5 separate regions of the Homo sapiens genome follow, and all the other regions are linked to region 2. The links come from fine-mapping of genetic effects on gene expression. A gene starts in region 2. Each other region holds a variant in brackets. All regions are shown on one strand. Distances are between the middles of the regions.

Region 1 (5,104 bases), 130 kb before region 2:
GGTGTTCAGAAGCCTCCTGGGAGACAATGTGGTATGGAGGGCATCTTCCTAGGGCATCTCAGGAAACAGTTGCTGTCAAGCAGCCCCTAATAAACAGTGATTACTGCTGCAGTGGGCTTGCCACGCTGCCACAGGTTTGGCAGGTAAAGACATGATAGACCCAAATGGATTCAGACGGTGTATTACTTATGTAGTCAGCAAAAGCAAGATCAGCATGATGCTAGCTCCCTCATCCCACAGGACAGCACAAAAACAAGGAGCCAGGTGATGGACGTCATGTGTGGTGGGATACCAATTCTAGAAGGCAATGAATGATTTTTTTTTTTTTTTTTTTTGAGAGATGGTCTTGCTCTGTGGCTCAGGCTGGAGTGCAGTGGCGTGATCAATGAACACATTTTAAAGCCTGCAGCTGGGGTGGGCGTGGTGGCTTATGCCTGTAATCCTAACACTTGCAGAGGCCGAGGCGGGCCGACTGCCTGAGCTCAGGAGTTCGAGACCAGCCTGGGCAACAGAGTAAAACCACGTCTCTACTAAAATACAAAAATTAGCCGGGCATGGCGGCATGTGCCTGTACTCCCAGCTACTCAGGAGGCTGAGGCAGGAGAATTGCTGAAATCTGGGAGGCAGAGGTTGCAGTGAGCCGAGATGGTGCCACTGCACTCTAGCCTGGGCAACAGAGCAAGACTCTGTCTCAAAAAAAAAGAAAAAGGAAAAAGAAGCCTGCAGCTGTACTGTAAAGAGGAGCGAGGTATAAAGTCCTAGCCTTCACTGAAACCAGGAAAGCTAAAAACAAAGTGCTTTGGAGAAACCTCCTACAAGATAGAGAGAAAGATGGATGACAGCGGCCTTGGGACAGCTCCCCACAAACTACATGTCTCGCCATGTTCCTGGGATGATATCACGGTATTCCAACAAGACTTAGGTCCCACTGCAGCGGAGCCTGGTCCACGTGGCCTACGTGGAGGCATGCAAGGTTGCCAGGGTACCGGGCCGGAGCCATTTCCCTAGAGCTGCCACCTGACTGTGCTCTGTGGAAGGAACTGGACATGGGAAAGCTTTTTACCATGGAGTCTGGATTGGAGGGTGCCTCATCGTCCTACACTGGCTTGCACCCAAGGAAACTCTCCTGAGATAGAACTACAGTTTGGTCAAGAAAAATTTCTCAGATCAACTTGTTTTTAAAATGCTTAGTTTTTAAAAATATTCAGAGTCCCTTGAAATTCAAAACAATTCATTAATGAAATGACTTTTTTAAAAAATTAAAAGTGAGGTTTCCACATTAAGGACTCCTGCTCTTTCTTTTCACCCCTCAGCTGCCCAGAACATGCATAGTCTCTGCCCCTTGTTCTGTATGAAACCATTTTCAGAGCCTGGAGTAACTCTTGAGCTGGCGAGCAACCCTTATGTAATGATCAGGGAAATAAGACAAGGGACATGGAGGGCAAAAGGCAACTGACAACTTCTAAGTAACTTTCCAGTCTGCCACTGGAATCCCATGGACCCGGGACTCCCTGTTGCAGGGTGAAAAACAGGGTGAAAATATGGGCACAAGACGTGTAAAGCTGAAAAGATGGTTCTGTAATATGTGACTGGAAAGATGGCAGCTGGGGGAAGAGGGAAACAGGGCTGAGAGAAAAGTGGCTGATGAGACCAGGGAGGAAAAAGCAGACAGGGCAAGGTGGCTATTCTGTACTGAAGACAGCACTGAATCCGGAGTCAGGAGACCCAGGTTCATGGCCCAGCTCTCCGTCCTACCTGCTGTGTGACCTCAGGCAACTCCTTAATTTCTCTGTGTCTCACTGTTCTCATTGGAAAATTGAATAGTAATTGAGGCTGTAATGAATTGTGAAAATATGTTTGGCACATGGCAGACTTCCCATTATGTTCGATTGTCTTTCAAGACCAATCTCTCCCAAAAGAAGTATGGAACAAGGATGGTTTTGAAATATGTATTTATTCAACAACATGAATTTTGTGTGTATTCAACGACAAAGTGTATACAGTGGCTAGTTCAGTTCATGGCACTTTGGGACTTCATAACTGAGATCAATGATTGGTTTTACTATTGTCACCAAAATTTCCCTAGGCCTTTCAGCCTGTCTGTCCGTGCAAACGAAGTTACATGGACAATAACTACTCAGTGATGTTGGCTTGTCTTCACTGGCATACTGCAGGACCAAGTATTTAGGGGGTTCTCTGAGGGATGCCCCTAATCTGCTCATGAACAAGCCTGCAGGCCCCTCTGGGACAGTCTTGGCTGCTGTCCGTGTGGGCAAATCCCTGCTGAGGCTGACACAACTCCACTAGTATTTTGCTTCCAGAGATCTTCACTGACTGTCCAGGATTAGAAAGTCTCCAGGATGAAAGGTTGATTTTCCACCTTAGGAGAATGCCCCCTGTCTGAAGGTAGAACAGGCATGTGGGTGTTCCAGGCCTTGCATTTAGGCCATAGAGCTGGAAAGGTCCCCTGCAGTTTCCACACTGCAGTTGTCATCCAGTTCAATGAGGGTGTTTTCTTAGAAGAAAACAAATTACACTGACTCTTTGCCCTTTAGGAAGCTCCGTCTGCTCCTTTGTTTTGCTTGGTGTGTGTCTTAGACAGTCATTACTAAGTTTGCAACCTTTTGATTTGTCCCTGTTCCCTCTTTGGCTTTAAAACACTGCACAACCCTCCTATTGGGGTTGGAAAGAAACTCCCTTTTACTATGATTTCAAGGAGAACTTGTAGAGTTACTAACGTCATTAAAAAAATCATTATCATGGTATCAGGGTACAGGTTTAAGAATGCCTTGGGGATGTCAGACCAACAACAATTCAATTGGTCTTGGGTCTTGTTCTGGCGTTTGCACAGTTTCTATGGCTTACGAACCCTCCCAGTTTCTGTGCCCTGGACAGTCATGTATGAGCTCTTTGTTGAGAACCCAGATTCCAGTTTGCCGTTAACCTGAATACACCCTGCTCACCTCAACCATGTGTGAGGCTGGAGTTGTTGCAGAAAGGAGCTATTCAGTGGGGATTGTGTTTTTTATAGCAGGATCTCAGCTGCCAAGCTGGATAGAGTATTTG[T/C]TTACTTGGGCAGCTTATTGCCCGCAGGACCTGTTTGTGTAAGAGGGATGGCAGGGATAAAGTTCAGCTCAGTATTTTTCAATTAAAGGACATTAAACAAAAAGCAAAGACTTCCTTGAAACTGTGGTCTTTGAACCTTATTGGTTTTCCATGTGGATGGTTATTTATATAGGACATTTCTCCTCAGCTAAGCCTTTATACTAGAAACAGAAGTGGATCCCAGAAGCATCACATCTGCCGCCCTGGCAGTCTGAATAGCTCTTCAGCAGTTAATGGTGTATAACAAGTAACATCTTGTAGTCATTGCAGGCAAGAGAAGTGAAAGGGAGTCTTAGAGAGACGGTCATTGGCTTTGTATGGTAAAGCTAAACAAAACAAAGGAAGACTATAGAGCTGGAAGACCATCACTCAGCCTGCGTTTGGCCTTCCAGACTCAGAAACTTGAGGACATGCATTCATTGGCATTCAAAGCAACTTGATGCTTCAAGGAACTTCAAAAGGTTGTGGGTGATCAGATAGAAGAATGTGGGTGCTCACCTCCTTTCAGCCACGTCAGCTTGGATTGCTGGGTGGCCTTGCTGAAGGGCCTGCATTGTGGGCTCAGCCCCTAAGGGGAGGGAAGTTTCACTCTATTCCTTCTCTCCAGAGTTGTTCACCTACTTCCAGATGAAGACCATCCTGGAGGAGGGTGGAGTGAGAGGGTTCCTGGCTCTCCTGTCCTGCTCCTGTCCCTCGTCCTGTTCCTGAGACTCTGCTGTCTTCCTGATCCTAGAGTTCATGAATTATTCCAGTTATCTTCAAACAATTGCCTTTTTGCCTGAGCTACTACAAATTGAGTTTCTGTTCCTTGCAGCCCAGAGAACCTTAACCATCACAGCATTAGGTGGCCTGGCTCCTGCCTCTCTAGCTTCATTTCCTGGCCCCTTGCCTTAAGTTCCACACTGTCATTCTCTCTGGGCCCGACACTGTTTCATACCTCCTTGCCTTTGCTTCTGTCATTCTCTCTGCTGGACCACCTTTTCCACTTTTCTTTGCCTGGTAGAAATGGACTCTTCCCAGAAAACCTAGCCCAGGAAGATTTCCCAAGCTTGCTTGTCACCTATCACATTAGTCACCTCTCACCAGTCACATTATCTGTTTATTTGTGTCTCTCTCATTCTAGCCTATAGTTTCTTCGGGTAGGAGCAAGTCATATTCCTCTTCGTATCTCAGTGCCCACCTCAATGCCTGGCATATAATAGACAGCTAAAACATGTTTGTTGAATAAAACTCAGAAAAATAAACAAACAAAAAAAAGAGTTTGCATTTCTGGCTGGGCACGGTGTCTCACGCCTGTAATCCTAGCACTCTGGGAGGCCGAGGTGGGTGGATCACTTGAGGTCAGGAGTTTGAGACTAGCCTGGCCAAGCCCATCTCTACTAATAATACAAAACAAAATTAGCTGGGTATGGTGGTGTACGCTTGTAACCCTAGCTACTTGGGAGGCTGAGGCATGAGAATCACTTGAACCCAGGAGGCAGAGGTTGCAGCGAGCTGAGATGGTGCCATTGCACTCCAGCCTGGGTGACAGAGTGAAACTGTGTATTAAAAAAAAAAAAAATTGAGTTTGCCTTTCTGCAGGAGAAATGAGAACATAAGGTGAGGAACAGAGTTACCCCATGGGTAGATACCCAAAGAAGATTCTGGTCCTAGAAAAACCATGACTGTAGCATATAATGAATAGGAGGGCATTGGGAAGGGTGGTGTAGTCTGGATGGAATAAGAGCCTCTCTTTCTCTTGCCATCATATTCTGTTTCTTTCCTGCTGAAATGTCTGCCTCGCATTCTACCAGTACCAATGTATCTGTGGTTGGCGCCATCAGGCGACTTAGGGTCAAAGTTTTCATTTTCTGGATCCCATGTCCTTAATGATGTGTATAGGTTGTGTCTCCTCGTGAGAAGGGATCAAGTTTCTGGAGAATAGGTGGGTCAGGGTTCTGTATCCAGAGAGCCTAAGTCTATTTGGAACCAGGGAAGGCCCCAAAAAGGAAGTAGCATT
Region 2 (5,104 bases):
TTTGTATTTTTGGTAGAGATGGGGTTTCACCATGTTGGCCAGGCTGGTCTCGAACTCCTGACCTCAGGTGATCCACCCACCTCGGCCTCCCAAAGTGCTGGGATTACAGGTGTGAGCCACTGCGCCAGGCCAAGATTACATTGCTATAGAAGTTTTGACATTTCAAAACTCCTTTGGAGCTGAGAACCACTATTGACCCTTGTGGCCGCCCTGGGAGGGAGGGTGTACAGGCATTGCTATTTCTGTTTTCCAAAGAGAGAAACAAAAGTCAAGAAATGTTATATATGTTTTCCAAGGTAATAGGTAGTGGCAGAGCTGTTACTATAATTTAGGACTCCTGGCTTGGCGCATGCATTGAACCATACTGCTTTCCTGTATTCAATGTGTCTTATAGGAATCATAGCTGAGAACCATTCTCAAACCTCATGTATTTTCTCTGAAAGAAACTATTCTTCATGTGATCAGTAACTTGGTGGAAAAGACAGATCTTCTTAACAATATTCATGAATTAAACAGTTTTAGGATAGATATTAAGCATTTCCAATCTTCCTAAGGTATTTTTATTTTTTTTAGTGGTGAGGCATAAGATATATTTAAATGAAGCTTAGTCTGGGAAACCAGCATATTGCAATAAAAAAATGCAAGTCTTTGCAATCTTGTAATTCTTTGTCTAAAGCTTTTTGTACAAAAGAGGGTATTTTAATTCAATAAATAAAAGATGGGCACTTCCAGCTCTCCTACCAGCACTAGCTACCACTTGCAGCTAACACACATAGAGAGAAAATACACAAACAAACAGTGTTTGATCCTGCTTTGCTGCAGGGTGTTTTCATCTTTCAAGAGACCAAGGGAAAAACAACCTCAGAACTTTACCACCAAAACTTCCAAATTTATTGCAACACAACGTAACGGCAAAATACTATTTTCTTAGCACACGCAATTTTGAGCAACCACCACGGCCAAGAATGCTTGTTTTTATTTTTACAATAAGTCCAAAGAAAATTTTTAATTCCACTCTTGATTTAGGAATGGCAAAGATGCTGTGGGTTGTTTGGAGAAAACTGTCATGTCTAATTATTCAGTCTTATCCTCTCTCTTTAACCTGTGCTTGAGGCGTTTATTTCATGTTTATACTAGTTGGACACAAATCATACTTAAAAGAGATTTCATATCCTGTCTTCCTGTGAAAAGCTGAGCTACGATGGCAGACTTAACAATGCCAGCCCCTTGTTGGGCTTATCAGTAACAGAAGCATTCAGCCTAAGAAAACACTTTAAGTGTAAACAAGACACAGAATCGCACATCTAGCCACATTCCACTGAAATCTGTCTGAATAGAGAGAAGTAGAGATCCACACGAAATAGTTTCTCTTTTAAGTTAGCACCAATGTGCCCATTTCTCATACTGCCATTCACAATCTTTATAAGCAATTTGCTATATTGCTATTACATTCCACATATTCCAAGCAAAGTTTTTAAAAAAGCAAGATAATAGAGACTTAAATTACTTTAAAATTCTACACAAATGTCATACTTTTCAACTTATTTGTAACCATAATTAAATTGGTTTAAAGGAACAGTAAAAATCTTGTTATAATATTAATATCAATGCAGTTTATTTATAATTGATAAATATATATGTATATTACTAGTTGTTTACAAGGATGCCAAGTACCATCCACTTTCATCTCAACTCTCTTGAAACTGAAATTTGCTTACTCGGTCAAGCTTTGTATTGTAGTTTCTTAAAGACAAATACGTTTCAATGATAATGAATGGAAAGTAACTATATACACAGCTTAGAAATTCATCAGACATACCTTGTTTGAAGAAGGCAATTTTTTTTTCAAAAAATTTTCACCACACAGAATGAATATTCTTTTTCCCTTAGGCTTTCCTGCATCACAAATCCCATCCAAATTATTCTAAGGAAGAAACAGGGAGAGGTCCAAGAACCTTTTCTCTTCTTCTCAGAGGAGCTAATCGAACAGTCCCATCAACCTCTCAGTACTTTGAAAAACACATTTTACACCCCCCCCCACACACATACACACACACACATGCTCACACATACTGCTTCTCACACTGGTTTTAGTGCTGAATTAGGCGGTCCTCTTTCAAATTTCCACTCCCACTGCTTTTTTTTTTTTTTTTTTTTGTAAGGATTTCTAAATATTCTTTTGTAGCCCAAAGCACAAACTTTCAGTAAGCAAATTCTACAATTTGACATTCTAAAAAGTAGAGGAGGACCACTTAGATAAAAATGGAAAGTAAAAGATATGTTTTAAAAATTACTTCAGCAGGGGCAATTCAATTTTTTCTTTCTTTTTCAAAAGCTAGTGAACAGCTGGACTGAACTGCACAAAGAAGGAAAACTGTGCAAACACTCTCAAACTTATTCTACTGGACTCCCACTTTTGAATTGAAAATATGTACTTTTTCCTACATATTAATGCTATTTTTTTGTTTTGTTTTGCTTCAGTCCTTTCTGCGTTTTGGCAAGTTTTATGAAATGACTCAATTATATGCTGGTAGTTACAGGACACAAGATAATCATAGTGGGAAGCAAAACCTGACTCATGTTTCAAAAAAAATACTGATGAATAATCTCACATGAAATCTGCCAGTTTTAGTTATTTATATATTAGTGTCATCAATGAAATCTAAGAGATTCAGATTCAAAATGTGTATTAACGTATCACATCATTAAAAAAAAATCAGACCAAAAAAAAGTACATCTGGCAGATCTTGAGATTCCAGTGTCCATCAGTGTGGCAGAGCATCTGTTTTCAAGCACAGGAGAAGGTAGCAAAGAGTCATTCCTCCTCCTGCTGGGGAGTGTGCACTCACGCAGCTAGGGAGGAGAACCTTCTTCCATTCGAGAAGCCTCCTGTCCTCATCTGTTGGCCCTGGAACTGCTCCTTATTTAAGATAATTGTTTGACAGATCTTGTGCTCTAATGCCAAGTTATACATGGGATGATTGCTGGCACGTCTTCATTGGCTATATAAAATGTGGCCGAGAAGATAGGCTCTCACGGTAAGAAGTCTGTGTTGATTAGGAGTAACTTTGGCCCAGCTCTCTGGTCTAAAGCTCTCAAATGTGACTATGTGAATCTGGGTGGGATTCATCTGCTCAATGCCATTGTGCAGAGATGCATAAGCTTTTTAATGCTATAAAACATGGTAGCTGAAATTAAATGCCACTTTTTCAGAGGTGAATTAATGAAGAGCCTGATGAAATTCAAAGCTTTTTGATGTATAAAACTTGATAAATGGAATGATTCCATCAATAGGCGAAGTGTAGCAAGCTATCTAGATGGATAGTATGTAATTTCTGCACAGGTCACTGTTAAATAAATACATCACTGTACACTGATCAGGAATCTTCCTCCATTAAAGGAACATGAAGACTAAAAAAAGGGAGATAATGATTTGAATGTTATTTAATCATTTTTACCCTTACTTCTTTTGGTTCTGCAATGAAATTATTTCTCAATCCTCTTTATTCCTCCACTAAATTCTGAGCCCAGGTTCTTTGGTGGTAAGGATGATAATGCTGTAACACTGAGGATCCCCTGTCCTACCACTTGAATTAGGGCAGGTTCAGAATGGCAGCCTAAGCATAATTCATAATCACATTATTCCTAATACTACTACTACTAATGCTGCTGGACTCGGTGGCTCAAGCCTGTAATCCCAGCACTTTGGGAGGCCGAGGCAGGCAGATCACCTAAGGTCAGGAGTTCAAGACCAGCCTGGCCAACATGGTGAAACCCCATCTCTACCAAAAATACAAAAATTAGCCAGGCGTGTGATGGCGGGTGCCTGTAATCCCAGCTACTCGGGAGGCTGAGGCAGGAGAATCACTTGAACCTGGGAGGTGGAGGTTGCAGTGAGCCGAGATCGCACCACTGCACTCCAGCCTGGTTGACAGAGCAAGACTTGGTCTCAAAAAATAATAATAATAATAATAATAATGCTAGTTGCTGTTTATCAAATACTTACTTTTACTAAGGACAGCAACCCTGTACATATATCATTACATTTAATATTTAGAAGAATGTAGAAGGATTAGTAGTATAATCTCCATTCTATAGATAAGAGAACTGAGGCCTAAAGAGATTAAGCAACTTTCCCAGGGTCATGCAGCCAATAAGGCAAGATATTGGATTCAAATCCAAGGCTTCTTGACTCCAAAGCAATGGTGCTCTATTAAGACTTAGAGCTTCTTTTCTTTTACTATAATAGTTTAACTTGTTTTCTTATGGTAAATAAGGCAAAATCAAATATAAATGTATTGAAAAGCATATGAAGAGATGCTCACTTGCAGTGATGAAGAATTTTGGAAATAGTAGTGATGGTTGCACAATATTATGAATGTAATTACTGCTACTGTATTGTACACTTAAAAATGGAAAAAATGGCAAATTTTATTACATTTTTTTTACCACAGTTAAAAATGGTAAAAAAGGAGCCATTCTCTTTTAAAAAACAATGACATATCATTTTGTTTTCATCATCTTGGCAAAAATTAGAAATCTGAAGAAAGATCATGGCAGACATGTCATAACCATGATGAGCTGCTACTGGTGAAGACAAATGTGGCTATTCTAGAGGAAAATCCAGAAGTACTTGGTTGAATTACCTGTGTACCCCAGGATCCATCCACCTCTTTCTGGGGGTATATTCGTCAGTGAGCTTCTCACACAGGGCCACTAGAAGTCCATGACCAGAGAATTCATGAGTTAAGTATGGGAGAAGCACACCACGAGGTACTGTTCAGAAGCTGGAAGCAAAGGCCTGGAGCCCTCGTACGTGCTGTCCCCGAAGTATTCTCTCGGATATCTGCGTGGCTCCCATGCTCACCTTCTTAAAATCTAGGCTCAAATGTTACCTCTTGAGTGAGCCCTTTCCTGGCTGTCCTGTTTAAAATGGCACCAACATTCCAAGCCTTTCCTTTTCCTCTTCCCTGTTTTATTCTTCTCTCTAGTACTTATTGTCCTTTAATAATATTTACTACTTGATTTTTTTTTTTTTTGAGTTGGAGTCTCACTCTGTCGCCCAGGCAGGAGTGCAGTGGTGCGATCTCGGCTCACTGCAAGC
Region 3 (5,104 bases), 78 kb before region 2:
TTACAGGCACGCACCACCGGCTCATTGTTGTATTTTTAATAGAGACGGGGTCTCACTATGTGGGCCAAACTCGTCTCGAACTCTTGAGCTCAAATGATCCACCTGCCTTGGCCTCCCAAAGTGCTGGGATTACCGGCGTGAACCACCGCACCCGGCCTAACTATTAATTTACTTCAAAGTGACAATAGAATTATTATATTTTAATGTAAGCGTTAATTTTTACTGAAAAAAAACTGTTTTCTAAAACCAAGGCTTCAGTGAGAAGAGTGGCAAATGTCTCCAATGTCTATCATAATAGAAGATAGCTGGAGTCTGTTATCAGCTCCTGCAGTCAGTTGTGATATGTTGTTGTTGTTGAAATATGTGGAGAAAATCTGTCCTCACAACAACATGTAGTCAGAGAAGGGAAGATGTCACAGAATCTCTGAAAGCGGGGTCTTTGGACCACACTTTGAGAACCACTGGTTTAGACAAATTAGTAATGAGGAGCTGAAGTTCTGGATAGTTACGTCTAATAGTGCCACCCACCAAATGAAGGGGCTGGGAATTCCCTACCACTTGAAGTTATTCGATATAGGGTAAAGGCCTCTGTCTGGCACACCATAAGTGATTCATTTTCAGGTGAGAAGTTAGACCAGATGTACTTTATACAATTCTTTCCAATTCCATAATCTGACGATTTTATAGCTGAGGAACTGGGCAGCTTGCCTTGTATACATGACTGCATCTGAGATGAGAGTTGGTCGAAGGATATCTAAGAACTCCAAATGTTCTTACCTGCCTTTACTCAGGGTGTGCAAATGGCTTCCTTCCCCTGTAGGAGCCATAATGGAGCTTCATAGCTAGTCTAGGTCTGAGCACCTAGAGTGTGTTGGGGGAGTCCTTTAAGTCAGGAACACTCTGAGAGTTCATGGGAGACTCTGAGGCACTCAGAGCAAAGTTGCAGGGATGATGGTGAGGAGAGAAGCAGCAGAAATTGGGTAGGATTTGAAGGTAAAGGAACATCTAGGAACATCTGTGTGGGTCGAGACAGAGTGGCATTATTGGGAGCATAAAGGAGAATGGAGAAGAAACAGAGAATCCCAGAGCTATAGAACTGGAGGATGGTAAACTCAGAAAAAGGGAATGAGGCCAAATACATTCAGCAGAATACAGCATTGAAACAAACCCAAAATTGTCAGGCAGTAAAAAATTGAAGATGCAAATCAGGTTATGTGCCTCCTTGCCAACCATCCCCCATGCCATATCCGAACCATGTGCTGTATCTGGGTATTTGTGCTTTATCCTGGAGGACTGTCTGAGGATGGGCCTGGTAGGTGCAGAGAGGCAAAGAGGCTGCTTAGTGAGGGAACCTCTTGAGGAGACATAAAGTAATGACAGCCCTTGGATGTCTTCGTTGACAAAGATTTTCTCTTTGATGCACTGAGAACAGATCAATCAAAGAGACATTTTCTCGAGGTTAAAATATCTTAGCATGCTCCCAAACTCTGGTGACCTGAAGTTGAGCTGCAGAGGCCAAGAACAAGTGTGTGGGGAGGTCCTCATGTTTGCAAAGTGCCACAGAGCAAATTCCTAGGGAGCAGAGATGGTAAGCAGTGGGCAGCTTACCCAGGCTGACATCCGCTCCAACAGGTTTCTGGAAGGCAGCTCCTGAAGGATCTTGCCTTTGGATACCTGAGGGGATTACACAGGGTCAGCCGATTTACACACAACCAGCAGGCTGCTTTCTTTCCTTATTTTGCCCCCGGTGAAAATTACCTTAGTTCAGATTTTCCTTGGAAGTCGGCCGAGCTCTCTGTGCCTGGTTGTACTTCTGGGGGTTGCAGAGGAGGCAAAAATCTTGGCCAAGGGGACAGGAGGAAACAGTGCTCCATGGATTGGGCTCCTGTAGAGTCCCACGAGTCTGTAGAGGCCTAAGATGGCCTTGGAGTCCTTGCCCTGGCCAGTGTTCTCATTCTCAAGCCTTTTTGTCCAGGACAACAGCATGTGCATTGGCAAAGGTGCAATTGTGAAGCTCATAGAAGCTGCTCGCCCTGACCAGAGGAGCCCATTGGGCCCCTGTTCCTATCCAGTAGCAAGCAAAACAGAACCTACAGTTTCTAAGAACATGTGGAGAGTGGACGAGTATCCCCCAGCAGGGAGAAGACCTGCTTCTGATCCTAGTGTCCTGTGGCTTCAGAGGGAATGGTATACTTCCACCAAGTCTATCAGCTCATAGACCGGGCTGTGAGTAGAGTTTGTGGAAACCGTCAAACCCTGCTAGATTTTCCTTTCTAATCTCTGCAGGCCTTAACAGTGCTGCAGAGAAGAGAATTTGCTGGATTCCTAGTTCTTCGGCCAAACCATACAGAAATGAAGACAGCCAGGGGCATTTCAGAATTCATAGGTGAACTCCCGGGGAGAGAGAATGTGTTTCTGTCCCCCGTGGCATAGAATTACTCAGGCAAAAAAGAGAGAAAAAAAATCCTCTTTCCTGGGAGATGATACAAATTTCCCTTCGTGTTTTACCGTAGTTCCTCAAAAATAAGCCCCAGAGAGTGCCCCTTTTCAGGTCTGTAAGAGCCCGGTTACTGAATCCTGAGACATTCCTATCACAACCTCTACAGACTCGCTTCAGGGGAACAGAGAGTGGGACAGGGCTTTGCTTACTTAACCACTTCTTTACATGTTTTCTTAGAAGTTGGGCCCTTGAGTGGCATCTTCTGTTGGCCTAAGTGGTTTAATAGTCCTTGTCCAAATCTAAATTAAATGGCAAAGATGTGGAGAGGAACCGCATGTAAACAAGCTTAACTTTCATCAGTGGCTGGAAAGGGAGTTTAAGGTCTTACCTGGATCAGCTCTGGGCCTGTTTTGGCTGCTTGT[G/C]TAGGTGGCAGTGGACCAGAGATCTGTAAGGACATTTGACTGGTCAGAGCATGAATTTTATTTAATTAATTAATTAATTTATTTATTTTTGAGTCGGAGTCTCACTGTATGCCCAGAGCTGGAGTGCAGTGGTGCGATCTCAGCTCACTGCAACCTCCGGGTTCAAGCGATTCTCCCACCTCAGCCTCCCGAGTAGCTGGGATTACAGGTGCGTACCACTAGGCTCAACTAATTTTTTATATTTTTAGTAGAGATGGGGTTTCACCATGTTGGCCAGGCTGGTCTTGAACTCCTGACCTCAAGTGATCTGCCTGCCTCAGCCTCCCAAGGCATGAGCCACCACACCCGGCCAATAAATTTTAACCTGACTGTTTTCATTCTTTCTATGATCCAACCTAGCAAGACATTACCAAGGTTGGAAACAAGGTGAAGCTCTATATTTGGGCAGTCCAAACCTGCCTTGGAAGAGGAATTCAAATGAAAAAAAAAAAAAGAGTATTTAACCTAAAACACCAACTAAAAACTACAGGTAATAATAACCTTTGTATTTCACAACTATCAAAGTATCTATCTTTTAGTCAAATGCCATATTTCTTTACACTTCATTATTCTTACAATAATTCTCAACTGTGCCACTCATGGGGAGGTTGAAGTAATCCTTCAGTAGAAGTGTCACTTAACATTCAGCAATTTGCTTAAGCTGCGTTAACGTGGTATTGATGCAAATAGAATTAGCTTTTCATCATTTTTAGAGGTACACAATGGGTTATCGTTAATTACTCTGTGAGCGAAGGAAACACACTTCAACATTCATTATTTATTGAGCAATTTCTCTAAAGCAAGGTTTTAAAAGGGAGAAGGGAGATAAAACATTCTGTTAAGAGAAATGCAAAGCCTTTGGAAGGGAAAGAGAGGCACGTAAAACCCAGCTGACGGAAATAACCAAATGTCATGAAGGGGAAGAGCAAGAGGGCATGGAAAAAAATATCAATTTGTCTTAGAACTGGAGTTATCCAAAATCAGCTTTTGACTCTTTTTGTCTATGTTCCAATTATTTGACACAATTTCAAAGTAGGTTTCTTTGTTTGTTTGTTTATTTTTTGTTTTCAGTCAGGCTCTCACTCTGTCCCCCAGGCTGGGGTACAGTGGTGTGATCATAGCTCACTGCAGCCTTGAACTCCTGGGCTCAAGTGATCCTCCTGCCTCAGCCTCCTGAGTAGCTGAGACTACAAGTGCACATCACCATGCTCTGCTAAGTTTTTGTTTTGTTTTGTTTTTGAGATGGAGTTTCGCTCTTGTTGCCCAGGCTGGAGTGCAATGGCATGATCTCGGCTCCCCACAACCTCCGCCTTCCAGGTTCAAGTGATCTCCTGCCTCAGCCTCCCGAGTAGCTGGGATTACAAGCATGTGCCACCATGCCCGGCTAATTTTGTATTTTTATTAGAGATGGGTTTTCTCCATGTCGGTCAGGCTGGTCTTGAACTCCTGACCTCAGGTGATCTGCCTGCCTTAGCCTCCCGAAGTGTTGGGATTACAGGCGTGAGCCACGGAAGTTTTTTTTATTTTTGTAGAGTCAGGGGTCTTGCTCTGTTGCCCAGGCTGGTATTGAACTCCTGGCCTCAAGTGATCCTCCTGCCTCGGCCTCCCAAAGTGTTGGAATTAGGGAGGCATGAGCCACCACGCCCAGCCTCAAAGCAGCCTTATTTTCTGTTTAATTATGCAGATAACATAGGCTTACTGTAAAAATAAGATGATATACTATGCATAGTAAGCAATCACCTTTTATCCTCTAGCCAGCAGTTACTGGTATACAATTCTGGCATACAGAGTTGTATCCCTTTTTCTGTGGGATGTACATGCTCTCATGTACAACACACGTTGCAAAAATGAGATTGGTTCCCATGCTGTTTTGTAGCCTGCTTCTTTGACTGAATGATCTGCCCCAGGCCAATTCTCTTGTGGCACTAAGCGCACATATTTCTCAACATTTTACTACCTGTATAGTAACTTCTTTAGCCATTCTTCTAGTGATAAATAAGTAAATTATCTCCTTTAAAAAATTATGAACAGCATCTGTTCTCACCCCGGGTTGATAATTACCTTAGGATATATTCCTGGAAGTGTGAATTCTGGGTCATTTCTCCACACTCTCATCCAAACTGTGTATTATCGATTTCCAATGAGAGTTGCTGAGAAATGATATTTTGTTGTTTAATTTGTACTTACTTGATTCCTGGTGAAG
Region 4 (5,104 bases), 43 kb before region 2:
GTTATCTTCACAAGTAGGATTGTTGTGTGCTGTGATGCCAGAGGGTGAGCTAGAACTTAAAGAACAGACTTTCTATAGAGGCAAATTTTGCCAAGAAGAACTTTCTAGGAACTGAAATTGTCCGTGAAGGACTGAGCTGCCCCAGGAAGCAGTGAGTGGGGTGTTGGTAGAAGTATGCAAGTGGAGACTGAACAGTTACAGAGAGGATTTCTACATTGGGTGAGGAGTAGAATAAAACCTCTCCCAATGCTAAGAGTCTGTAATTCACAGACTCTTGGATCCAGGAGCTCTGCCAGGCCACCCACCCTCTAACTGGGTTCCTGAGATGGTCTCAGAGTTGCTAATGGCTTCCAGCTGTATCCAAAAAGCATATTCTTTTTTAACCCTTGTGTACCTGAATGAGGAGAATTGCATTTCATTCAGGCTGGAGAGAGAACTGAAGTTTTATGCTCTTTTCTTAAACACCCATCCCAGACAATCTTTGCTACTCAGGGCTGGGCCAACAGGGAACTTCTGCTGGGAACCGAGGGGTTGAGTTTGATCACAGGCTTAAGCAATTAGTGGTTTACATTAAGAAGTAGAGCGCTGTGCTTCAAACAGTTTTGTGGTTTCATTCTCCCCATCAAAGGTTGCCTCCTCGCCGGCTATTTTCTTTTTACCTTTCATTCTTTTAAACTCTGATACTCAAGGCTGCATTTACTATTATGAGTCTCAGAGTATTTTTTAAAGGCATATTTTGGGATGAAGATGCCAGTGTGGTCTCTCTTCAAATTAGTGAATTGTTTGATTCCTGGATGTAACTGTGTGTTCAACTCTCCTCTTTTCCCCAGATCACTTCCTCACTCCCAAATGCATCTCCTCCCTTAGAGGTAAAGAAAATGAAAGATTTCTTCTTTGTTCTTAATTTTTTGAAATAGGAAGTGACAAGCTGTGTGCATTAAGATTAAATTTTGATGTGACTCTGGCACTGTGAGATTTTGAATGTCCTGTCAGACCAACTAAATATTTTGGGGTTGTGTAAACGAGTCTCTATCTGGAAGCTTATTTCATGAGTATTAGACAATGATCAAACCTGTTGAAAGACTTCTGGGTGCACATATTACATGCAGTAAGATCTTCCATGAAATAATTGGTTTAAAAGACAAGGGAAAATGTCACATTTTACTTCCTGCTAATCAATTTTCCCTCCTTTCTTTAAGGGGGCACTTGTTTTTTGTTTGCTTGTTTATTTTGTCTTTTTTTTTCCCCTTACAAATGTCAGGGAAGTACCTTAAATAAGATCTGCTTTATCTGCACCTAACCAGATTAGCAAAATTGGTGGATTCACTCATTAATTTGTCCCACGGGGGAAAAAAATGAAATCAGGCACGTGTGTTCATGCACTTTGAAAAAACAGGGAGCCACGGTAAAGTGTGGCTAAAGGTAAAAAATTTGTTAAATTTGTACAGAAAATTAAGCTGGAGAGAGTGAACTAGTTAAATTTTGCAGAGTGATTGCCAAAATTATTAAAAAGTGTAATGTCTATGTTCAGCCAGGAAAAAGCAGGCATTTGCATCTTTCTGGCAGCTCTTCTTTAAGTATATGGAAACTATGGTTTGTTTCTCTACAATATTTTCCCAGTTATTTGTGAGGTAGTCTGTTTTCTTGTAACAGCCAAAGAATCTTCCACCGCTCCACTTAAGGCCCAGATGAAACGGATGTTGGCCTTTCCTCTGAAGGTCTTTGAACTATTCAGTGCTCGCAGCTTAGGTTTTCCTTTCTTCCTCTTTCTTTGGTTGTTAAGGTTTATTCGTATCTCCCTTCCCCCTTCTCTGAGTTTGATCCTAAAAGTGCAGAAAATCGGATTTCCTTAAGAAGATAAGCTAAAATTAAGGCAGCTCAAGAAGTATCAGTTGTAGGTCTAAAGGGAGCGGGAAGACATTTGGCAAATGCCAGAACAGTCAGAGGGGAATGCTGTGTCCCCACAGCTAACCTCAGGTGAAAAATTATTTGTAAGTTCTAAAAAGAACTTATTCTGGAACCTTTGAAGAAAGCAAGACAAAAGCCTCTTCCATTCCTTCCGGACTGGACAGTTGCTAGCGTCCGTGAGGGAAAGTCCACACCAAAGCCACAGAGAGCCGTGGGGAGCCCAGACCTCTTGAGTGGCACCTTTGCACAGAAACCTGTTGCTTGGCCACCTGCTCCGCTTCTCCCTTTGCGACCCCACCCACCCACCGTCTCATATGATTCCTTAAGATAATCTTGCCTTCTCATAGACGCTCTCACTTTCGTATCAGAAATCACATTAGAGCACCTCAGTATCTGCCAAGGGTTCCTTCCCAAAGGCCCTTGGAACTAGCCACAGGGAAAAGAGAACCACCTGCAAACCAGATCGAACTGTAGGATTACCTTTAGGTCACTGAGGTTCATGTGTC[C/T]GCTGTAGTGATCTCACAAGGGTTCCTGGGCAAAAGGTCTCATCTCAGAACAGACAACTGGTACTATTTGAGTCAATTTTTAGTACAAAATTGGAATCTGAGAGGAAGAACTGCAAATATTTCTTCTGTTGGTTGGGTCTCCTGCCTAGGCTAATAACAGTGATTATTAGATGATGTCACATACAGCAAGCCGATTATGTAGTAGGCCAAATCAAACTGCAGATTCCTTATTTTGCCACTCATCTTTTCAGTAATCCCAGGCAAGCCACATTGCTTCTGGAGAACAAGTTTCCTTATCAACAAGCAATTATCGTAAGCTTGCCTCATGCCTGTTAATAAGGAAGAATTATTATTTTTATTTTTTTAATGAAGAAGAATTATAACATAAAAAAAATCACTTATGTATGAAAACTTTTAATATTAAACTTAATTTTGTTGCACTGTGATATTCAACTAGAGTAAAATCCTGTTTTTAAGAGAATTATGCAAAAAGTCCTCAGTTTAATGAAATAAAAATATCATTAATTTGAAGATGAATGCATTGTTCTCCTTGATCCTGATATCTAGGTCACTTTAATTCTTCCTTTGAAGCACCCTCTTTTGCAAAGCATTCTTATCCATTTTTCTTAAACAATCTTTGATCACATTGAATCTTTGCTCAAAAACCACCACTAGGTTTTTGCTGCCATTAGGAAAAATTCCAAAATCCTTAAGGCCATTCCATAGTTTCTTCCATGGAACGTCTAGGCTTGCCAATACTTGCCAATAAAGTCTTTACTTTCTAAATGCATGTTGTCTCGCACACTTAGCTTGAATCATTTCTCACCTCTGAAACCCTTTTTCCTTTCATCTGTTTGAATGTTACTATCTTTTAGGTCCCAGTTCCAGTTAACATCTTCATTCATCTACTAGAATATAAAATTCATGAGGGCAGGGACTTTTGTCTGTTTTGTTCACTGCTGTTCAAGAGAATGTCTGCTGAATGAATAAATGAATGGATGGAGTGATTGGATGACAGAGGGTAACTGGCCTGTGGCAACACAGTTTTGGGGCAGCTGCAGAAGTTTGTGTCTCTAAAAATACATATTTTAGTTTACAAAGGACCCTAATATAGGTTCTTTCATTTGGTCCTTACAAAACCCTAAAAGGCATTAGTCTTCATTTTTCAGAGAGGCAAGTTAATTTGTTCAATTAACAATTGAACAATTGTTCAGATATCAAGTGGCAGAACTAAGACCTGAACTCAGGCCTATAAACCCAAAGCTTTGCCAGCTCCACCTGGTTGCCACTTCCATGACTGAAGGGAAGAAGTTAAACTGCAGCTTCTCTAGTCTAATCTTACAGGCTTTTCTGAACTTGAAGATTGCTGACAACCACTAGTGGGTGAATGCAGTATATATCTTACAAATAGGTTGTGTGTATGCATGTGTGTGTGTGTTTATGTGAATACATGCATGCATCTGTGCATTTACCCCAAATACCTGCAAAGTAACTCTTCTAGCGTAATTTTCCATTGTACTGTTTTCCCGTTATTTCTGAGAATTGCCAGGGTAGAGTCTACTCAACTGAAAATCTGTAACACAGACAGTCTCTGCCTTCTTTCTCACCCATATCAGAAGAAGGGCTAGAAAGTTAATCCTCTTCCTTTTTCATGGTCTGAGAAAGGGCCCACAAACCAATCTGTGTGGAGAACCCACTGGTGTTGGCGCCAGGTGTCTAAGAAGCAAGAAACACTGGGGATTACTTACAAGTTGCTACACATAAACCTACCCAAGAAGCTGTGTGCATGCTATACCAAATCTTACAACCATGGAGTCGTATTTCTCTTCATCAGTGTCCAATGCATTAAGTAACTAAGTCCCAGAACAATGACCTCTTCATGCCCAAGGCAGTAGGTTCAGGAATCATCTACTCTTTCAAGGTTGATTGCAAAAATCTTTCCATGCCTTACAAGGTATTAAGATTAACTCATTGGAGAGAACTATGTGAACTACATGTTGTACATTTCACCCCAAATTAAGTCTATTTCAACAGACTCCAAAGTAAATGGAAATATTTCAGAATGTAGCTCTACTGCCTGTGGAGAATATCGTGTTTATCTCACTGATTGTTGTCTTCCTCATGTAAATTTCCTGCTTAGAAAACTCTCAGGAGTCCCCGCCCTCTAGTGAATGACAAAGAAAAAAAGCTTCTCAGATTGGTGTTGCCTGGTGGGTCCTAATCCACCTTCCAGCTGCATTTCCGTGACTCCTCAGTGCTTAAACCCAACCTTGCCTTTCACTGCTTCCTGACCTCATCCTCCACTTGTTTTCCATGGTATGTGGGCTTAGTCCACCTAGAAAGCCCTTTCCCAACCTCTGCCTGTAAAAATTCACTTATTTTTCAGGTCTTATCTTGAATGTTCTTTCATAAGACCAATAGGAGTCCTATTGTAGACTCCTTGTTTGTTATTCTCCTATAGAATTTACCACATTTTGCTTTATTTTATAGTGGCTTTTGTTGTTGTTCCTTTGTCCATACCTAATGAGCACTAATTGGATCTTCATGGTACTTTTGGTCTTGCTGGGAAGATAGACTGTATAAAAAAAGCTCTTAGAGTAATACGTGGTAAATACAGACAGTCCCTGATTTACAATGGTTTGACTTCAGATTTTTCAACTTTATGAAAGGTTTTTCAGGGTATTAAATGC
Region 5 (5,104 bases), 110 kb before region 2:
GCTCCTTGGGCTGCCTGGGTGAGACCCCCCCTGGGGCTGTGGAAGGAGCAAGGAAGAACCTAGCTGAGAATTCGAGTACACTGCTCCTCCACAGCTGCTGGTGGGTGTGGGGTTTTGCTTTGAGAGGGTAATTGCAGGTTTCGGATTGACCAGTCCCTCCCTGGAGGCCTTACTGCCTAGAGATGAGCTTCATGCACATTTAAAGGCATGGGAAAACCACTGCAACGGCGTTACAATTTTTCAGAGTGCAGAAAATCCTGATGTTGGGTAGGTCTCCGGGCAGTCATCTACCTTGTTTGCAAAGTTGGGCTCCACCACATACTGCTTCTCATTTTCAGCAGCACCTTCAATGGTGATGAAGAAAATGTTGATTCCTGACTCTCTCGCAAGTCTTGAAGCCTCCTCCACTTTGTCCGTGGGCCAGCCATCCACCATCACCACCACCACATTGGGAGCCCCGCTTCTGTTTCCATTGGCTTTGGAAAAGAAGTTCTTGGTCACAAAGGAGATGGCCCGACCTGGAAGAAAAAGAAAATTCATGCTTGGAGTGATCACGCTGATTATAAATACAGGAAGAGATCACAGCAGCACAAAGAGGTCCAGAAAAATACACTCATTCCCTCCCTAGTTTTTTTTTTTTTTTTTTTCCTTTGAGACAGGGTCTTGCTCTGTTGCCCAGGCTGGAATGAAGTGGTTCGATCACAGCTCACTACAGCCTCAACCTCCTGAGTTTCATCAACCCTCCCACCTCAGCCTCCTGAGTAGAAGGGACTACAGGCGTGTGCCACTGTACCTGGTTAATTTTGTGTTTTTTTTGTAGAGACGAGGTTTTGCCATGCTGCCTAGGCTGGTCTCAAACTCATGGGCTCAAGTGATCCACCCACCTCAGCCTGCCAAAGTGCTGAGATTACAGGCATGAGCCACTGCACCCGGCCTGTTACTTTTTTAAAATCACTTCAACTATTTTTATGTGTACAATTCAGTGGCATTAAGTACGTTCACAATGTGCAGCCGTTACCACTGTCCATTTTGGTTTCATTTCAAGCCTTCAACTTCTAATTGTCTCCGCTTTGAAGAAAGTTTTAGGGACAGCAAGCAGGTGAGAAAGACTTTTTTTTTTTTTCCCTGAGACAGATTCTCACTCTGTTGCCAGGCTGGAGTGCAGTGGCACAATCTCGACTCACTGCAACCTCCACCTCCCAGGTTCAAGTGATTCTCCTGCCTCAGCCTGCCAAGTAGCTGGGACTACAGGCACGCACCACCACACCCAGCTAATTTTTGTATTTTTAGTAGAGATGGGGTTTCACCATGTTGGCCAGGATGGTCTCGATCTCTTGATCTTGTGATCTGCCTGCCTCGGCCTCCCAAAGTGCTGGGATTACAGGTTTGAACCACCGTGCCTGGCCAAAGACTTTCATGCGAACAGAAGTGCCCCTTTTCTGCTGGACCCACACTAAGCCCCTAAGCCAGCCCCATGTTGTTTCCAAGAGTGTAGGGTGGGAGGAGTTGACCTGGAGTGACAGTAGCCTCTTCTTGGCCCCCTGCAGCCTGGGGTGAGCCTGAGGCTCCTGCTGGCTGTACAGAGCTGTGTTCTGGGGTCAGGAGTGTTTTTCCTCCAGTTCCAGGCCAAGGGCACAGGTCTGGTTGGGCAGGGAAGAGTTGCACCCACTGGGAACTGACAGACTGTGTTCTAGCCCTGGCTGTGCTACCTGCTAGCTGTGTGGCCCTGAGTAGGTCACCCTACATCTCTGGGCCTAGCTTTCCATAACAGCAATCTACTTCAGCTGAGTGCAGCAGCCATGAAGTGCTACAAAGCCTCCTGCCATGACTTTTCCAAGTGCATATTTCACACTGAGAAGGGCTTCAGGAAATTTTCAGAGTCAACTAGACAATGACCAATTGTCTCAGTTTGCCAGGACTTTCCCAGTTTTAGTACTGAAAGCCCCAGGTTTTTCTGGGAAAACTGGGATGACCGTTCACCCTAGAGTCAGCATGGCTGTATAGAGTAGGCAGAGCTCTTAACCTGGGCTCTGTGAACCCCAGGGCACTTGAAATTATACACAGTATTTTGTGTATATAAGTATCTGTCTGGATAGAAGGGCCATAGCTTTCACGGAATTCTCAAAGGAGTCCTCAATCTCCATAAAAGTTAAGAAGCACCTTCTTTAGACTTTAGGATTAGTAGTATTATACTCAATGCATTTCTGATTTTGGCCAGCATCCTGTCTCCACTAGCTGGTATTATCTTACTTGTCAAATGAGAGCATCAAATGGTTACATATACAGATGCTGCAGAAATGTCTTGGAAAACCCATGTGAACTGGCTGCACAGAACCCACTTGCTAAGGAAAAACCTTGGCTGCTAAGAATTGCTTTTATAGCCAATGGACAATTTTTCCCAAAGCACAAAGCACCCGGAAGTCCTCTCTGGCCTAATATTAGGCACCTATAGGGCAGAGCACAAGACGCCATGAGAAGATCCCCTCAACCCCACCTAACCTTATATCTGGAGGCCATGGTGTATAGTGCTCAACACACATTCCATCCACCTTCCAGTGGGTCTTGAAAATAGAGGCTGGAAATCAGAAAACTACATTTTCCA[G/A]ACTCCCTTGCAGCTAGGGATTTAGCTTTGTTTTAGTTCCATGAATTGATGCACTTGCATGAGATTTAGAAGATAAAAGTGAGGCAGAGGCTGTACTTTTGTTTATATTTCTGCTGACAAATATCTTTAGTATCTGACTTCTCTGGGATACTGTCCGCAGAGGTGCTTGGGGTTGGTTGCTAGCTGCAGTGGTTTGGGGCGGCAGGGTGTGGAGATCCATGTTGTGGGTGTGAATGGCACAGGGAGGGCGTGGTTCTGGAGCTGGCAGCTCTAGAAGAAGCTTCCTGATCTCCTGATCCTGCTGGCTTCCTGGACAAAGCAGGTTTCTGAAGAGGTTGCCATGGCAAAATTCAGAAAGTGATTTCCTAATCTTGGAAGAAGGAGCAGCTCCCTTGGAGGTCCTACTTCTGCAGGAAGCCTTCAGACATCATCTCTTAAAGCTCAGCCTACAGTCTGCTTCTTCAGTTCTTACAGTGATTCTCCAAACTACTTAATAGCCTGAAATTCCAACCCTTTCTGTTGGAATCAGTTGAACGGATTCTGTCCTCAGAACCCAAACTCTGGACAATACAGAGGCAAAGTCAGAACATGTCATCCACTGAAAAACGTATGCTGATTGGATTGAGACCCATCGCTAACCTCGTCAAGGAACGAGAGTGCCTTCTGACATTTGTCTCCACTGGGATTTTACTAATGTAAGCATTAAGTTATAAACAAACCAGAAATCAACTCTGTCATGTGTGTGATGAAGGTAATACTGCTTTGGGGGCATGGAGAGTGACTTGGCTAGTGTTTATTTAGCATTGTTCAAAGGTGAAAAGCTCTGTATGTGTTAGATACTAATGTTCTGGTCACTATAGAGACATACACTGAAGTGGGAAGGGAAATCTTTAATCGGATTTACTGTAACTCTGAGGATGCTCCCTCAAAGACAGCTCAATTCCCTGCATGTACTCTAAGCCAAGCAACTGTGGCTCATGACTCCATTTCTTTGGATTTTGATGACAGAAACACTTTCCCCGAGAGGTGGACAGTCTCCCTCCAGTGCCCAAAAAGCCAATCTTTCATTTACAAATGAATACACTGGCATGGGCTCTTTGACAGTCTTTGAGCTTGGTTAGTGTGAAACTGTTTCCTAATGGCCAATCAACTCTGGATAAACATAAAATGGAATTTCTGGACATGCCCCACTGAGGACTAGACTTTGGATTTCTGGTGAGACCCCAAAGGCTCAGATATCACAGAAGACCTAGCTTGAAACAGAGAACATGTTTCTCTTTGCACAATCATCACTACAACGGTAGTTGATTGGAACAAGATTCTCAAGGGGCACTGAGGGGCTTCCTTAACTGGTCACAAAATTTAATGAAACAAGTGATGACTTGTAGGCCAACAAAAAAATAGTCAGGACAGCAGACTTGATTGCCCTGAAGAATGCTACCCCTTCTTGCAAACCAAGCATGCTGGGACTGTACAGTGTGTGTGTGTTAAAGATTCTTGCCCTCTGAAGCCATGATAACTTTAGAAAAGATATAGATGTTGCAGGAGTAATTTCTTTGTCCTTTTTTTTTTTTTTTTCAGATGGAGTCTCGCTCTGCCACCCAGGCTGGAGTGCAGTGGCGCCATCTTGGCTCACTGCAACCTCAGCCTCCCAAGTAGCTGGGATTATAGGCACCCGCCACCACACCCAGCTAATTTTTGTATTTTTAGTAGAAAGAGGGTTTAACCATGCTGGCCAGGCTGATCTTGAATTCCTGACCTCAAGTGATCTGCTAGCTTCAGCCTCCCAAAGTGCTGGGATAACAGGTGTGAACCACCACGCCCGACCAGAAGTTATTTCTTGACGGATTATTATTATTTTTTCCTTTTATATAGAATGGTTAGAAGACAATCACGTAGAAAGAGAACGATGGTAGCAAGATAGTATAATTTGAATCCGGATCACATACCTACATTAGAAAGTCCTCCTCTCTGAGTAATTTTCTCTATGGCTGTCTTCAGATCTCGAGAATTCGTGTGTGTCTTGAGGTTAAAGTGAGTAGCAGGGTTGTCTCTGAAGAGTCAGAACAAGAAATACAAATTAGCTGCAAAGTTAATACCTTTGGAGGAAGGCAGAGATCATGGTTGATTCTTTTATATACAAATAGAAGCTGCTTCAAAGCCTTCTGCTATGCCTTGTAAAATGTCCCATTGTGGACTGGTGTGTGTAGAGAAAAGGAGGCTATTTCAAGGCTCAGAAGGCGTGTGTTGACTGTGCCATTTCCTGGCTGTGTGATCTTGAGGAGACAACTTCTCTGGGCTTCAGATTCCTCATGTAGATGAAAACATCGTTATAACACCCATATTGCTAATGAACGGGACTGTTGTCAAGTGGGATTTTGCAAATGTCAGGATCCCATCTGTGGAGTGCTCAGCGTTCTCAGCCTACCCCAGACCCCCCTCTCCAGAAAGAGAATCTCAGCTGTCAGCCACTCTCTGGGTTACCCTTAGCACTGGAATTGC

Direction of the effects. Alleles are on the strand shown, and positions count from the first base shown. SD is a standard deviation of normalised expression in the study named. Not every link is listed here.
For the expression in skeletal muscle of the gene that starts at base 2,086 in region 2, allele C in region 3 goes with a lower level than allele G (large effect, 1.6 SD a copy in FUSION).

The links. PIP is the estimated chance that this variant, and not a neighbour inherited with it, causes the effect.
Region 1: its variant is fine-mapped to the expression of VIT in nasal epithelium (TOPMed, PIP above 0.99).
Region 3: its variant is fine-mapped to the expression of VIT in skeletal muscle (FUSION, PIP 0.95). The same link has a PIP of 0.9 or more in subcutaneous fat.
Region 4: its variant is fine-mapped to the expression of VIT in tibial nerve (GTEx, PIP above 0.99).
Region 5: its variant is fine-mapped to the expression of VIT in whole blood (TOPMed, PIP above 0.99).

Annotation. Positions count from the first base shown.
Region 1 is chr2:36,819,342-36,824,445 of GRCh38, reverse strand. No RefSeq gene overlaps it. Among named protein-coding and RNA genes, the nearest start is that of VIT, 130 kb to the right of the region's middle. The variant T/C (reference allele first, on the strand shown) is at 3,067.
Region 2 is chr2:36,693,689-36,698,792 of GRCh38, reverse strand. VIT (vitrin) reads right to left here and starts at 2,086. Exons shown (of 16, transcript NM_053276.4): 1 at 1,820-2,086. All of the region lies in intron 2 of LOC124905990 (a long non-coding RNA gene), which reads left to right.
Region 3 is chr2:36,771,572-36,776,675 of GRCh38, reverse strand. It overlaps VIT (vitrin), which reads right to left. Exons shown (of 16, transcript NM_053276.4): 8 at 2,829-2,885; 9 at 1,609-1,674. The region is part of intron 1 of LOC124905990 (a long non-coding RNA gene); the gene reads left to right. Among named protein-coding and RNA genes, the nearest start is that of VIT, 77 kb to the right of the region's middle. The variant G/C (reference allele first, on the strand shown) is at 2,863.
Region 4 is chr2:36,736,852-36,741,955 of GRCh38, reverse strand. The region is part of intron 3 of VIT (vitrin); the gene reads right to left. The region is part of intron 2 of LOC124905990 (a long non-coding RNA gene); the gene reads left to right. Among named protein-coding and RNA genes, the nearest start is that of VIT, 43 kb to the right of the region's middle. RefSeq lists an enhancer at 4,150-4,845. The variant C/T (reference allele first, on the strand shown) is at 2,415.
Region 5 is chr2:36,800,852-36,805,955 of GRCh38, reverse strand. VIT (vitrin) reads right to left here. Exons shown (of 16, transcript NM_053276.4): 13 at 4,552-4,655; 14 at 292-518. All of the region lies in intron 1 of LOC124905990 (a long non-coding RNA gene), which reads left to right. Among named protein-coding and RNA genes, the nearest start is that of VIT, 110 kb to the right of the region's middle. The variant G/A (reference allele first, on the strand shown) is at 2,603.